4 linked regions of the Homo sapiens genome follow. The protein of the gene in region 2 purifies or fractionates together with the protein of the main gene of each other region. This does not show direct contact. Each region holds a gene or a part of one and is shown on either strand. Other genes may lie near its edges.

What was found. Proteins that work in one complex are often made in the same cells at the same time.
Region 1: the proteins of TNFAIP6 (region 2) and C17orf75 purify together in Homo sapiens (affinity purification with mass spectrometry; one large-scale study listed by BioGRID and IntAct). This does not show direct contact.
Region 3: the proteins of TNFAIP6 (region 2) and ETNPPL purify together in Homo sapiens (affinity purification with mass spectrometry; one large-scale study listed by BioGRID and IntAct). This does not show direct contact.
Region 4: the proteins of TNFAIP6 (region 2) and LRP2 purify together in Homo sapiens (affinity purification with mass spectrometry; one large-scale study listed by BioGRID and IntAct). This does not show direct contact.

What each region holds. Positions count from the first base shown.
Region 1 is NC_000017.11:32,327,941-32,332,173, forward strand, and holds the end of C17orf75 (protein Njmu-R1), read right to left. Parts: intron 4,039-4,233; coding exon 3,823-4,038; 3' UTR 501-3,822; downstream 1-500. UniProt on the Homo sapiens protein: As component of the WDR11 complex acts together with TBC1D23 to facilitate the golgin-mediated capture of vesicles generated using AP-1. May have a role in spermatogenesis.
Region 2 is NC_000002.12:151,374,592-151,377,568, reverse strand, and holds part of TNFAIP6 (tumor necrosis factor-inducible gene 6 protein precursor), read right to left. Parts: intron 1-2,977. UniProt on the Homo sapiens protein: Major regulator of extracellular matrix organization during tissue remodeling. Catalyzes the transfer of a heavy chain (HC) from inter-alpha-inhibitor (I-alpha-I) complex to hyaluronan.
Region 3 is NC_000004.12:108,746,054-108,749,553, reverse strand, and holds part of ETNPPL (ethanolamine-phosphate phospho-lyase), read left to right. Parts: intron 1-90; coding exon 91-316; intron 317-1,394; coding exon 1,395-1,549; intron 1,550-2,702; coding exon 2,703-2,792; intron 2,793-3,024; coding exon 3,025-3,155; intron 3,156-3,500. UniProt on the Homo sapiens protein: Catalyzes the pyridoxal-phosphate-dependent breakdown of phosphoethanolamine, converting it to ammonia, inorganic phosphate and acetaldehyde.
Region 4 is NC_000002.12:169,240,535-169,244,034, forward strand, and holds part of LRP2 (low-density lipoprotein receptor-related protein 2 precursor), read right to left. Parts: intron 2,989-3,500; coding exon 2,869-2,988; intron 2,539-2,868; coding exon 2,422-2,538; intron 832-2,421; coding exon 454-831; intron 1-453. UniProt on the Homo sapiens protein: Multiligand endocytic receptor. Acts together with CUBN to mediate endocytosis of high-density lipoproteins. Mediates receptor-mediated uptake of polybasic drugs such as aprotinin, aminoglycosides and polymyxin B.

The DNA.
Region 1 (4,233 bases), on a different chromosome or scaffold from region 2:
CACATCCAGCCACATTTAGGAACTTTAGCAATTAAGAGAACTGGACTGCCCTCTCAGACCTCCAAGTGGAAAGACTTCATTGAAGTCAGCAGGGTTTCCATTAAGTGAGAAGACACACTGTTAGGAAAGTGTGGTCCTAGTAACTGCATCTTATTTCCAAGAAGCCCGCAGGCTTTCCTGGCACCTGGTCTAAGGGATCCTCTGGTAGAGGACAGGCATTCTGTCATGGTGAATAATGAATGAGAGTGAAAGGAAGTAACTTGGGTTATTGAGTTCTATGAGTATAACTCTACTGGACAATGAATAAAACATTGTGAGGGAAATTGCTCTTAGATTCTGCTTGATGCCTCCTGCAAGAAGCAGAAAGGTGTGTATCCCAGCAAGTGATTTGATCTTCTTCAACAAATTCCTTAGTATAGCAAGTATAATTTCCTCACAACCTTGTTGGGAATACAAATGTTAGGCTTGAGGACTGAGCTCATTAAACAAAAACAACTGTCTTGATGAGAAGCTAAGTTTTATTATTATAATTACAAATTAATTACAGAGAAACTGAAGCCATTCTTCATACATGACAAACATACATTTCCTCTGTGTGTACAGCACACAAGTAATATACACAAATATATTCCATGTCTGAACAAATCCTTTTTAAAACTTTAAAAGCTGGCTGGGCACAGTGGCTCACGCCTGTAATCCCGGCACTTTGGGAGGCCAAGGCGGGTGGATCACAAGGTGAGAAGATCGAGACCATCCTGGCTAACACGGTGAAACCCCGTCTCTACTAAAAATACAAAAAATTAGCCATGCATGGTGGCACATGCCTGTAGTCCCAGCTACTGGGGAGGCTGAGGAAGGAGAATCACTTGAACCTGGGAGGCAGAGGTTGCAGTGAGCCAAGATTGCACCACCACACTCCAGCCTGGGTGACAGAGCGAGATTCTGTCTTAAAAAATAAAACAAAAACAAAAAAAAAAACAACTTTAAAAGCCAAGATAGTAGCTTATTAAAATTTGAATACAGTACATGTTTCTAGTCATGAACTCTGTGGTTTCTTCTCATGACCAAGATATTCAGTTCCATGACACCATTTTCCTTGTCTACAGTAGTGATACAGAGTTTGTCAGACTTTTTTTTTTTTTTTGAGACGGAGTCTCGCTCTGTCGCCCAGGCTTGAGTGCAGTGGTGTGATCTCGACTCACTGCAAGCTCCGCCTCCCGGGTTCACGCCATTCTCCTGCCTCAGCCTCCCGAGTAGCTGGAACTACAGACGCCTGCCACCACGCCCGGCTAATTTTTTGTACTTTTAGTAGAGACGGGGTTTCACCGTGTTAGCCAGGATGGTCTCGATCTCCTGACCTCATGATCTGCCCGCCTAGGCCTCCCAAAGTGCTGGGATTACAGGCATGAGCCACCACACCCAGCCCAGACTTACTTTTTTTAAAATAAGACTACCAGAGGCCGGGTGCAGTGGCTCAGTTTGGGAGGCCAAGGTGGGAGGATTGCTTGAGTCCAAGAGTTTAAGACCAGTCTGAGCAACATAGTGAGACCCCATTTCATTAAAAAAAAAAAAAGATAAAATAAGACTATCATATAGAGCTGTGTAATGTAGTGAGCCTACATTACAAAAATATATACAACCACACAGAGAATATGTAATTACACCTTGCCTATATCCATAAATGATTTGAAGCAGGTAACACATTTGCTTTTAAATGCCATTTACAACATAGACTCTTGAATGACATGAATTTGAAAATGAAGTATTTTTTCAGACTTAAAACGTTGATGTGCTAATGTAGCTTACTTTAAAAAATGATTTCCAAGTGGGGAACCAACTACATTGGGAAAAGACAGTCAGATTCAAGGACAGTGTCATAAAATTGCTGGTTTTCCTTAGTCACCCTGACTTTATTTTTTTGAGACAGAGTCTCGCTCTGTCACTCAGGTTGGAATGCAGTGGCGCGATCTCGGCTCACCGCAATCTCTGCCTCCCGGGTTCAAGCGATTCTCCTGCCTCAGCCTCCCAAGTAGCTGGGACTACAGGCACATGCCACAGTTCCCAGCTAATTTTTGTAATTTTAGTAGAGACAGGGTTTCACCATATTGGTCAGGCTGGTCTGGAACTCCTGACCTCAGGTGATCCACCTGCCTCGGCCTCTCAAAGTGCTGGGATTACAGGCATGAGCCATCGTGCCCAGCCACTCTCACTTTAATACTATGAAAAATGCTACTTAGATTTTTTTCTATACTGCCTACATTCCAAGTTATTAAAGTTTAAAACCGTATGAAAGCATTTATGAAGATTCTGAATTGTATTTCTCATTAAAAGAAAAGAAATGTGAGTCATGTCCCGAGGCTTATGTAGAGGAGAAAGCAGAAGGCCATTGTCAGTCATTTTGAAAGTTAAAACTCAGCACTTAATGTGAATTTAGATCCATTTAAGAGAGGATTCCTCAGTTTTATGGGTTTGTGCTCCTCTGAGCATCCTCAGGGAAGTGAGAACACAAGACTTCTGTTCTTCTAAGCAAAAATCATTATCAAATGAATTTATTAAAGAGCTATCCCGAGCAAATTGCAATTGTATGTATGTAGCTACATAGGCTTCCATGGGAATTGTAAATGGCTAGCTGAGGGCACTTTCAATTGATTCAGAGTAAAACAATCTGAGGCTTGTAACAAATGTACAAAAAACTAAAATCAATGAGTAACTCTAATAGGAAGAAACTGTTTGCATTCCTTATGTTACAGTTTGCTTGTAAACTGTATGTACTTTGTTTCTTTTCTCAACACTGTTTTAAAACTCCAGCATTTTCACCTAAAAGAAAACACAGGCTCTTCATAAATACCTGTGAACAAATAAATGAAATGGTGACTGAAGGCGATTTCTGCAGTAGCTTTCTCTCAGAGATAATTATTTTTTTTTTTGAGACAGAGTCTCGCTCTGTCGCCCAGGCTGGAGTGCAGTGGCGCGATCTCGGCTCACTGCAAGCTCCACCTCCTGGGTTCACGCCACTCTCCTGCCTCAGCCTCCAGAGTAGCTGGGACTACAGGCGCCCGCCACCATGCCCGGCTAATTTTTTGTATTTTAGTAGAGACGGGCTTTCACTGTGTTAGCCAGGATGGTCTCGATCTCCTGACCTCATGATCTGCCCGCCTCAGCCTCCCAAAGTGCTGGGATTACAGGCTTGAGCCACTGCGCCCAGCTCAAAGATAATATTTTATCTTGAAGCTAGTGCATCGATTTGTAAAGCTCATTTAATTTTCTACATACTCAGGATTTGCATATTGACTTAAAATCTGACTTTATCATCCATGCCGTTATCAACTAGACAAAAAAATGTATCAAGCACCCACAGGATGCACAGATCTATCTCTGAACTGGTGTAGTGGTATTAATCTGTTCTAAGACTAGAATTACATTTTTTTTTTTAAGAAGCTACAGTCCACTGAAAAGGAAGTATTATGGTTTTTCTGAGAAGAAAAGTTGCTAAATACTGCAGCAAACTCAGGCTTTTCCTGAGAAAAGCCACAAACAAAATCATCTCTGAAATTTTTTAAGCAACAACTTCCTGAAGCGTGGAATTTATGGGGCCAGTGAGACACTAAAATTTCACAACTCTCACATACATTATCTATCTAGGACTCAGTGAAGATGTTCTTCAGATTTTTATTTAAGTTAAATTGGTAAAATACAAAAAGAAAATCTGGATTGAGTTTCAAATCATCTTAAATAGCAATCCTATGAACAATTATAACTGCAATTTCAAACACTAAGACTTAAATATACAACTTGATCATACAATTATCTCAAAACATATGATCAAAAACTTTGGTCAAGAGCTTCTTTCATGAATTCTTCAAGGACAGCTATCACATTTTTGGCTTCAGGCATTTCTTCATGTTCCACTTTAACAATCTTCAAAAGTATATCTCCACTACCACAGTTCTTTAGGAACATGTAACATTTAAACAAAGCATAATGATTCATTTCTGCCTGTCGGATAAATCTCTTCAAATTGTTTGTGTCTTGTATGGCCTAGAAAATGATTACCCAGTTAAAAATGTGTTAAGTGAAATAATAATGAAGCTCAAAAAATAACTCCTATCCAGCTGAGAACTCAACATATCTTCCTGAATTGTTTGCTTTTCATATTAAATATTTCCAAAATTTAAATTGCAGTATGCTTTGCCCTTGGTAGAAGAAGAAAATCTCCTTTTTTTTCTTGTTTCG
Region 2 (2,977 bases):
TCAGAGAATATTCAGCTGGTTAAAATGTAAATTGGTTAGGTATGAGTCGACAGGCCTTATTAAAAAACAAACAAACAAACAAACAAACAAACACAAAAATGGCCGGGCACGGTGGCTCACGCCTGTAATCCTAGCACTTTGGGAGGCCGAGGCGGGTGGATCATGAGGTCAGAAGATTGAGAGCATCCTGGCTAACACAGTGAAACCCTGTCTCTACTAAAAATACAAAAAATTAGCCAGGCGTGGTGGCGGGTGCCTGTAGTCCCAGCTACTTGGGAGGCTGAGGCAGGAGAATGGCGTGAACCCGGGAGGCGGAGCTTGCAGTGAGCCGAGATCCTGCCACTGCACTCCAGCCTGGGCGACAGAGCGAGACTCACTCTCAAAAAAAAAGAAAAGAAAAGAAAAGAAAAGAAAATGTAAATTGGGAGTCAGCCAGGCAAGGTGGTTTATGCCTGAAATCCCAGCACTTTGGGAGGCTGAGGCAGGAGGACAGCTTGAATTCAGGACTTCAGGACCAGCCTAGGCAACATAGCAAAACCCCATCTCTACTAAAAATAAAAAATAAAAATTAGCCTTGTGCGGGAAAATCACTTGAGCCTAGGAGTTTGAGGCTGTAGTGAGCTGTGATGGCGCCCTTGCACTCCAGCCTGGGTGACAGAACAAGACCCTGTCTCAAAAAAAACAAAAAAAAAAAAAAAAAAAAGAAAAGAAAAAGAAATGTAAATTGGCACTGTAGGAATCTATTTTTTTTTAAAGTAGAATTACTGAGTAAAGACAGAGGTTTTAAAATGTTCATTGAAACGTTGAATAACAAAAGAAAAAAATCAGAATCAAATGCCTCAGAATGTTAAATATTAGTACATGACAAATTACAGTATATCCATACAGTGACCTATTAGGCAGTCATGAAAAAGAATTTGAATGATCTAAATATCATACTCTGACATGGAAATATGTCCATAGTTTCCACATATATAATGTTTGTATAATAGAAAAACATCTGGAAGGATGGTCACTACAGAGTTATCAAATGCCTTTCTGGGATGGAGAGGTGAGGAGAGTAGGCACATCCTTACTTTTATATCTCTTATTAATGTGGTAGGATTATGGACAATTTCAGGTTCTTTCTTTCTTTTTTTTTTTTTTTTTTGAGACAGAATATCACTCTGTCTCCCAGGCTGGAGAGCAGTGGCATGATCATGGCTCACTACAGCCTTGACCTCCCTGGACTGAGGTGATCCTCCTACCTCAGCCTCCCGAGTAGCTGGGACTACAGGTACGCATCAGGATGCCTGGCTAACTTTGTATTTTTAAATTTTTTTTGAAAGGGAATCTTACTTTGTTGCCCAGGCTAGCGTGCAGTGGAGCCATCTCAGCTAACTACAACCTCTGCCTCTCAGGTTCAAGTGATTTTCCTGCCTCAGCCTCCTGAGTAACTGGGATTACAGGCACGTGCCACCACACCGGGCTAATTTTTTGTGTTTTTAGTAAAGATGGGGTTTCACCATATTGGCCAGGCTGTCTTGAACTCCTGATCTTAAGTGATCCACCCGCCTTGGCCTCACAAAATGCTAGAATTACAGGTATGAGCCACTGTGCCCGGCTGACTTCTGTATTTTTTTGTAGAGACAGGGTTGCATCATGTTGCCCAGGCTGGTCCCAAACTCCTGAGGCTCACGCCTCTCACCTTGGCCTCCCAAAGTGCTAGGATTATAGGCACGAGCTACCATGCTTGGCCAATGTCTTTATTTTCTATTTTTGTTTTGTAATCTATACCCTGGGTTGAGTAAGCGTATATTTAAAAAGAAAACCAGATCAAAATGTTAATAGTATTATGCTTGATAGGATTTTTTTTTTTTTTGAGATGGGGTCTTGCTCTGTCACCCAGGCTGGAGTGCAGTGGCACAATCTCAGCTCACTGCAACCTCTGCCTCCCAGGTTCAAGCGATTCTCCTGCCTCAGCCTCCCAAGTGGCTGGGACTACAGGCGTGTGCCACTGCACCTGGCCAATTTTTTGTATTTTTAGTAGAGACGGAGTTTCACCGTGTTAGCCAGGATGGTCTCGATCTCTTGACCTGGTGATCCGCCCACCTCATCCTCCCAATGTGCTGGGATTACAGGCGTAAGCCACCACACCAGGCCTATGCTTGATAGGATTTTATGTTAACTGTATCTTATATCTTCTTTTTCTATTACTTTGTATCAATGTCCTCTTCCTGATTTTTTGCTAAATCTTTGGCTTTTTTGTTTTAACTATATTCTTTTCTGTTTCTTGATTTGTTTCTCTTTGAATGATAAATTGTGTGGGTTTTTTTTTTCCCAGTTTCTTGAAGTTGTGCCAATAAAACCCCACCACTGATTTGATTACATTTGGAGTAAGTTGTCTACTTTAGAGAAAAAAGGAAAATGTAAAATTTCAGACTTTTTTTTTTTTTTTTTTTTTGAGACGGAGTTTTGCTCTTGTTGCTCAGGCTGGAGTGCAATGGCGCTATCTTGGCTCACCACAACCTCTGCCTCCCGGGTTCAAGCAATTCTCCTGCCTCAGCCTCCCAAGTAGCTGGGATTACAGGCATGTGCCTCCACGCCTGGCTAATTTTGTATTTCTGGTAGAGACGGTGTTTCTCCATGTTGGTCAGGCTGGTCTCGAACTCCTGACCTCAGGTGATCGGCCTGCCTTGGCCTCCCAAAGTGCTGGGATTACAGACGTGAGCCACGGCACCTGGCCTAGGCTTCTTTTTAACTTCTTTGTTTAATAGGATTCTCATCCCCCAACTACCTCCTACAGCAATAAGATGTTTTCTTTCAACTTTCTGTTAATATAAAATATATTTTCAAGAAAGGAATGAGAGATAAGTAAACGGTTTAATTTAATAGGTTATCTTTCTTAAGGGAGTTTGTAACAGAATAATGAACTAACAAGGTTTAAGCATTAATCATTCGATAACAGAGCAGGAAGTTCCATCTGTTACAGTTATGA
Region 3 (3,500 bases), on a different chromosome or scaffold from region 2:
TTTTTTTTGTCTTCAATAATTTGCATCTTTGTGGGTGGGTTTGGGGATCTCAGTGACCTGAAGGCATTAGACTGCCGCTTTGCTTTTCAGATATGTACACGGTGCAGGGGGTGTGTTTATAGCTGATGAAGTTCAAGTGGGCTTTGGCAGAGTTGGGAAACATTTCTGGAGCTTCCAGATGTATGGTGAAGACTTTGTTCCAGACATCGTCACAATGGGAAAACCGATGGGCAACGGCCACCCGGTGGCATGTGTGGTAACAACCAAAGAAATTGCAGAAGCCTTCAGCAGCTCTGGGATGGAATATTTTAATACGGTACATTTTGGTCTCCAACTTTAATGCTAAGAAGGAAAAATAATGCATGTTCTTATATTTTTTGCCAATGTAGTAAAGAATAAAGCTCAGTATTGCCGGCTAACCACCCAGAACTCTGGCCAAAGTTTTTTCTTATTTTAATAAAACATCTTAAATACTTACATATATATATAAAATTATACTTTAAGTTCTGGGATACATGAGTAGAATGTGCAGGTTTGTTACATAGGTATACATGTGCCATGGTGGTTTGCTGCACCTATCAACCCGTCATCTAGATTTTAAGTCCCACATGCATTAGATATGGCCAAACTTTTATCTAACCAGATTTTATTCTGTCTGACAAAATGCTCCTTGTATTTCTGCTTGTGTATCTTTACCTGTCCTAAAACAGGCTTATTAATTTTTCCAATGATAGATGGTTGCCCTGCTAAATTCTACAGGTTATGATATTTTCATTTCTTTGTTTCATATCATACTTAAATTTCCAAAACACTTTTAAAGTATTTTTATGACTCAGTACTATAAATGTTATACAGCTGTCATAAGAGATACTAAATTTTTATCTTTGGGATATTATATTTTTTTGACTTATCCCCATAAGCTTTAAGCTTGGAAAAATTATTGTAGTTTGTTCAGTATATATAATACGACTTGTTACAGCTAAAAGTAAGATTCAAATCTGAGGACATAAATTGCTTGGGGAAAATGTCATTGCTTAGCTACTTTTACTCAGCTCTTCAAGGGCAGAAACCCCTATTTCCCTCACTGGGCAACACTATGAAATCCTGAACTCCCAACATAATGTCTGCTTTTGTTTGGATGAGCAAATAAAATCACTGGTAGTCCTTCATACCAGTTATGCAGCTTGGATAATATAATTTAGAATGAATTTTCACTCAGTCCTGAATATATAGAATCATGCTCTATTCTAAATATGAGAAACTAATATTATAAGAGAACATTTTATTTAAATTATATCTTCACTTATGTATGTATGAGCCAAATTTCTCATGGATGAGGGAATACCACTCATTCAACTGGTATATTTTCTCATTTGTCTTTTTTTTTTTTACAGTATGGAGGAAATCCAGTATCTTGTGCTGTTGGTTTGGCTGTCCTGGATATAATTGAAAATGAAGACCTTCAAGGAAATGCCAAGAGAGTAGGGAATTATCTCACTGAGTTACTGAAAAAACAGAAGGCTAAACACACTTTGATAGGAGATATTAGGTATGTTCATTATGAAGTTGTCATGTAGTTACTCATTTTTTTCAAAATAATAATAGTTTATAGGCTGGGCAACATGGTGAGACCCCGTCTCTATTAAAACTACAAAAAATTAGCCAGGTGTGGTGGCACACACAAATAGTCCCAGCTACTCGGGAGGCTGAGGCATGAGAATCACTTGAGCCTGGGAGGCAGAGGTTGCAGTGAGCCGAGATTGTGCCACTGCATTCCAGCCTGGGTGATAGGGTGAAATCCCGTCTCTAACAATAATAATAATAGTTTATATTTTATCTTGTAAGTTTATAATAAAGTACATAAAACTAAATCTGGAAAACACCAAAAAAGAGAGATAGCAAAAATTATTCTTATTCCAGAATCCAGATATCACCACTGTTAACATTTGGGTGGGGCCGGATGTGGTGGTTCACATCTGTAATCCCAGCACCTTGGGAGGCAGAGGCAGGAATATTGCTTGAGCCCAGGAGTTTGAGACCAGCCTGGGCAACATAACAAGAAACCTTGTTTCTATAAAATAAATAAATAAACCAACAACAATAAAAAAACATTTGGGTATATGTCTTTCCTGGCTTTTATACTTTTTTAATAAAGTTAGGATAATGTCAGCACCCAAAAGATGAAAAGAAGGAACTTAATGTAGCTCTAAATAATTTATTGAAAATTATTTAAAATGCTATTCTGAAAAGCTGGATATTTTTCATATATATGTATGAAATACTGACATATATATATATAATATATATATATATTATATATATATATATAATATATATATATATATTATATATATATATAATATATATATATATTATATATATATATATAATATATATATATATATTATATATATATATATATATATATAATGTTAACATTTATCATCATTAACATCCTGAGAAACTAAATAGCATGAAAGGGTTGTTTTTAAGCCATTTTCTTTTATAATTGAGAAAAGAAAACTGGATGACAAAAACTAATTTATTTCCAAAAGTAGAAACAACTGTGAACATAGATTGGTATCTTGATTTAGTTAGAATTAAACTTGGAAATTAAATGGAAGTTTGGTGATAGTGTTAACTTTTTGTGACAGTGAAGAGTTGGACAGATTGTGGGTCAAGTTTTTCTTCACCTCTCGCAGGGGCATTGGCCTTTTTATTGGAATTGATTTAGTGAAGGACCATCTGAAAAGGACCCCTGCCACAGCTGAAGCTCAGCACATCATCTACAAGTAATTCACCCCCACACCCACCTGTTTGGTATCTTGGCTGCAGGATGCCTACCCACTTGAAAGCTTGCTTGACTTCCTCCCATCCCTCTGAAAAAGGAAAGTTTAAATACATCCTATTTATAATGTGGGCTTCTTAAATGCAGAATACTTAAACTGCTCTATGTTCACATAATTCTTCAGTAATCGTAGTTATCCTTTGCATACACTCACATGTATTTCCTACACAAATTAGGATGAAAGAAAAACGAGTGCTTCTCAGTGCCGATGGACCTCATAGAAATGTACTTAAAATAAAACCACCTATGTGCTTCACTGAAGAAGATGCAAAGTTCATGGTGGACCAACTTGATAGGATTCTAACAGGTGGGTCCATGGATCTTTAAGATGTCTTCTTGTTCCCTCTCCCAAACCCACCCCTCAAACCCTGGTCTAGTCATAATGAGCATATGCATCTTGTTATTCATGATGGAAGTGAGGCAGGGCAGAAATAAATGTGTAACTTTCCATTTAGGACTAGAAAAAGATAGCTGAAAAGTAACTACATGGACTCTTAAATTGAAATTTTCAGTTTGTATTCATATAACTCCAAATATAAGTTTTTGCTGAAAGAACATAGTTTTGTCATTTATTTTTACTTTAGACTAGCATATTTAAAAGTGCATGTCTGCATTGTGCCATGGACCACAAATACTACAGTATATAGTATTT
Region 4 (3,500 bases), about 18 Mb from region 2:
GATTAAAGAGGAAAGAAAGAAATGACAGTAATTAGGATTACATGCCAATCACAGCACTTTAATCACAGCAACACAAATCCCTGGACTTCATTTTTTTGTGATAAGTTCTGATTGAAATTAGAAAATATTAAAGTTAGAAAAATTAATGAGCACATTACCAACAGAACCAAATTTAATTTGACAATCTAATGGCCTCAATTTAGTCTCATTTTTTGAAACAAAGACATAAAAAGAAGTAAAAACACATAACCAAGTACAAAGGATTTAATCAGAAAATTATCCAATGGTGATGTATTTGAATTCAATTATGGTTACCCCCTACACAGATGTGAACTCATAGAGGAACTGAAATCCTTCCTACAAAGCTACACAGTGACTGTGACAATGGTGATGCACACCAGGCTACTGTTCAGAATGAGTTTATGGCCAGTAAACTGTGGTCAGGAAACTTACTGCAAAGTGGGGACTCATCTGTCCCATTGGGGCAGTCAAAGATGCCATCACACACTACACTCAGATTCACACAGATGTTATGGCCAAGACACTGCCATTGCCAACTAGGACAGCGAAAGGGCTGAGTAGGGCAGTCCTTCTCATCACTCATATCCCCGCAGTCATTGTCCCGATCACAGAGCCATGCCCTGTGGATGCAGTTTCCGTTGTCACAGTGGAAATATGATGAAGGGCAAGTCTTGGGGACACAGGCATTGTGCTCATCAGATCCATAGAGGCAGTCTGGATGCCCATCACATTCCCAGAAGTTCGGGATGCAGATACCATCTTCTTGGCACTGAAATTCATCTGAGTGGCACATACCAGGAGGCCTGGTTGCTAGAAGGAAAACATGGGGTAAATCGGCTTGTGAATGTAATTTGTGATCCCTTTTATAGTCTAGACTCAGAGGAAATGATTTTGGATCCAATAGTAGGTTTATAGTAACAACTATGACCAAATTAATATTTAAGGCTAAATGATATAGAGTCTTCTCCCACACTCTAGTACATAGAAATATTTCTTTGTGGCAGCTAGTGGCTCTGACAACAAACGAAGTACAGAACGCACAACTGCTGACTAGCAGATGAGTACCTGTGTCAAAAGAACATCCTGTTTCCTTTTCCTGTGTTTTTAATGTACTTCCAATTGCAGATTCAATAATAAAGTTTATCTATCTTTCTATGAAAGAATCACCAGAACATTACAATAGAGCTTAAATAGCTATGATTACTTTGAACTTCATGTGTTTCATATCATGTTTGGGTGTTATTATTTTCCCTCAGATGAACTATACCTAATGAAACCATCACACACTAACTAAAGATGATGGTAAATACTCAGTTCTTTGCAAACTTTCCACTATTCATCAAGCAATCCTGGAGAGATACGTAAGAACTGCTTCCCTATTTGACAAGGGTAAACCAAAACTCTCTACCAGGGATCTCACAAGGCAACAGCAAGCCAGCGGCAATTGACAGTTTAACCTCAGCTCATCACAGAATTTTATGTTTTTAATGTGAAACAGGAAAATTAGTGATTAGTAATTTCTAGATGTTGTGCAAACTATAAAGTATATAAGCATTTTATTTAACTTTTCTTTTTAATCCATGGCTTTACACACTACCTTTCTGACGCAGGAGGAGAATTCATGAAAACTTACTTTTTTGGTCTAAAACACCATTGTTCAAACAAATGATCAACTCACTGATGAGTTTTTGCAAGTCTAAAATCCATTTAAAACAAAAAGTGGGCAAATAACAAATCATGTGAGTATAGGTTTCCAGTCTGTGAAGATTATAGATCCATCAGAATTATACTGTATGAAGTCCTACTTGAATCCTCCAACTAGAAGAAATTTCTTTTCTCTGAACCTCCATAGAATTTTATCTGTGCCATTTCTAAGACCCTTGTAACTGTCTATCTTGCTTAATTGTCTCTTGCCTTCTATAATCTCCATAGATAACATCTTAGCAGATATTCAACACATAATAGCACAAAGAATGAATTCATCAGAGTCAATACTAAACACAGCTCCATACCATTTCTACACCATGATATGACTTCTCTACTGAAACTTAAAAGAAACCAGTAAAATATCTTTATATGGAGTAGAGCCTCAAAAGTTTAAACCTACTAAAGTGGGAAGTCCTAAGAAAAACTAAAAGTGAAAACAAAAATATCTAAGAAATATTTAGCCCATCTAAGAGACTATTTGAAGTGTCCATTTATACAACCACTTGATTTGTTAATTACACATTATATGGCAATGTCTACTCAATTTTACTGTATGTTCAATACCACATTCCTTTGAGGATACTTTCCCCCAGTTTGTCTGAGTTAGGGAAAATGTGTGGCAATATCAATATCAATACTGGCAAAAATGAAATGACCCCTTTGTCTGAAACATTCTGGGTATGTGTTACTTACGACAGCCTGCTTCATCCGAGTTGTCACTGCAATCAAAAACACCATCACAACGATTTGTGACGCCAATACATTTATCCCCACTGGCACACTTGAATTGAGAAGCAGTACAGTTTAATACTAAGAATGAAAGAGAAAAGCATTAGAAATTAGCTCAGGGCTAAAATGACTAAACACTGAGATTTTTCTTTTTTGTTGTTATACTTTAAGTTCTGGAGTACATATGCAGAACATGCAGGTTTGTTACATAGGTATACACGTGCCATGGTGGTTTGCTGCACCCATCAACCCATCATCTACATTAGGTATTTCTCCTAATGCCATCCCTTCTCTAGCTCCCCACCCCCCAACAGGCCCCGGTGTGTGATGTTCCCCTCCCTGTGTCCATGTGTTAACACTGAGATTTTTCTAAATAAACATTGTGAATAAAAAAGAAGGCAATGCACTTACCACAACCAACCTCATCAGATCCATCAACACAATCCTTGTCACCATCACAGACAAACGATAGGTCAATACATCGATGATTGGGGCAATTAAACTGACTAGGTTGGCATGTCTCTGTCGAATCTAATGTCATCCGAAAACAAAACCAACAAGTTTATTTCCTGTGCAACAAGTACCAGAGCCAAACTAAAAATGGCTAAATAGCTACAGAAGTTATCTCAATTGTACATGGGTTCAAAATTCTTTTGAATCAGCCACACTATCAAAGTCAGCTAAGCAAAAGAACTCAAAACTAGGATAGGTTTTAGAATTGAGAATAAAAAGATTACAGGGCAGAGTCAGAAACTGTGATTACACCTTGGAAAATAGACCACATTCAGAAAGTGAGCATCATGTGCTTGGACTTGGACTACATTTCATGAATACTATGAAGTCCATGACTCTAGACCAAAGCCAAGCAATGGAGCCCAATCAGGCAACAAAACCAGCATGACCCACATGCCTAGTAGCAACAGTGTGTAGACAGACCCCCAAAACTGGATTTAAAAGTCTGAACAGAACAATTCTAAAAACCAGGGTCCTACCTTACTGTTAAGACCATAGCCTTGGAGTCGGATGCAGTGGCTGGCCCCACC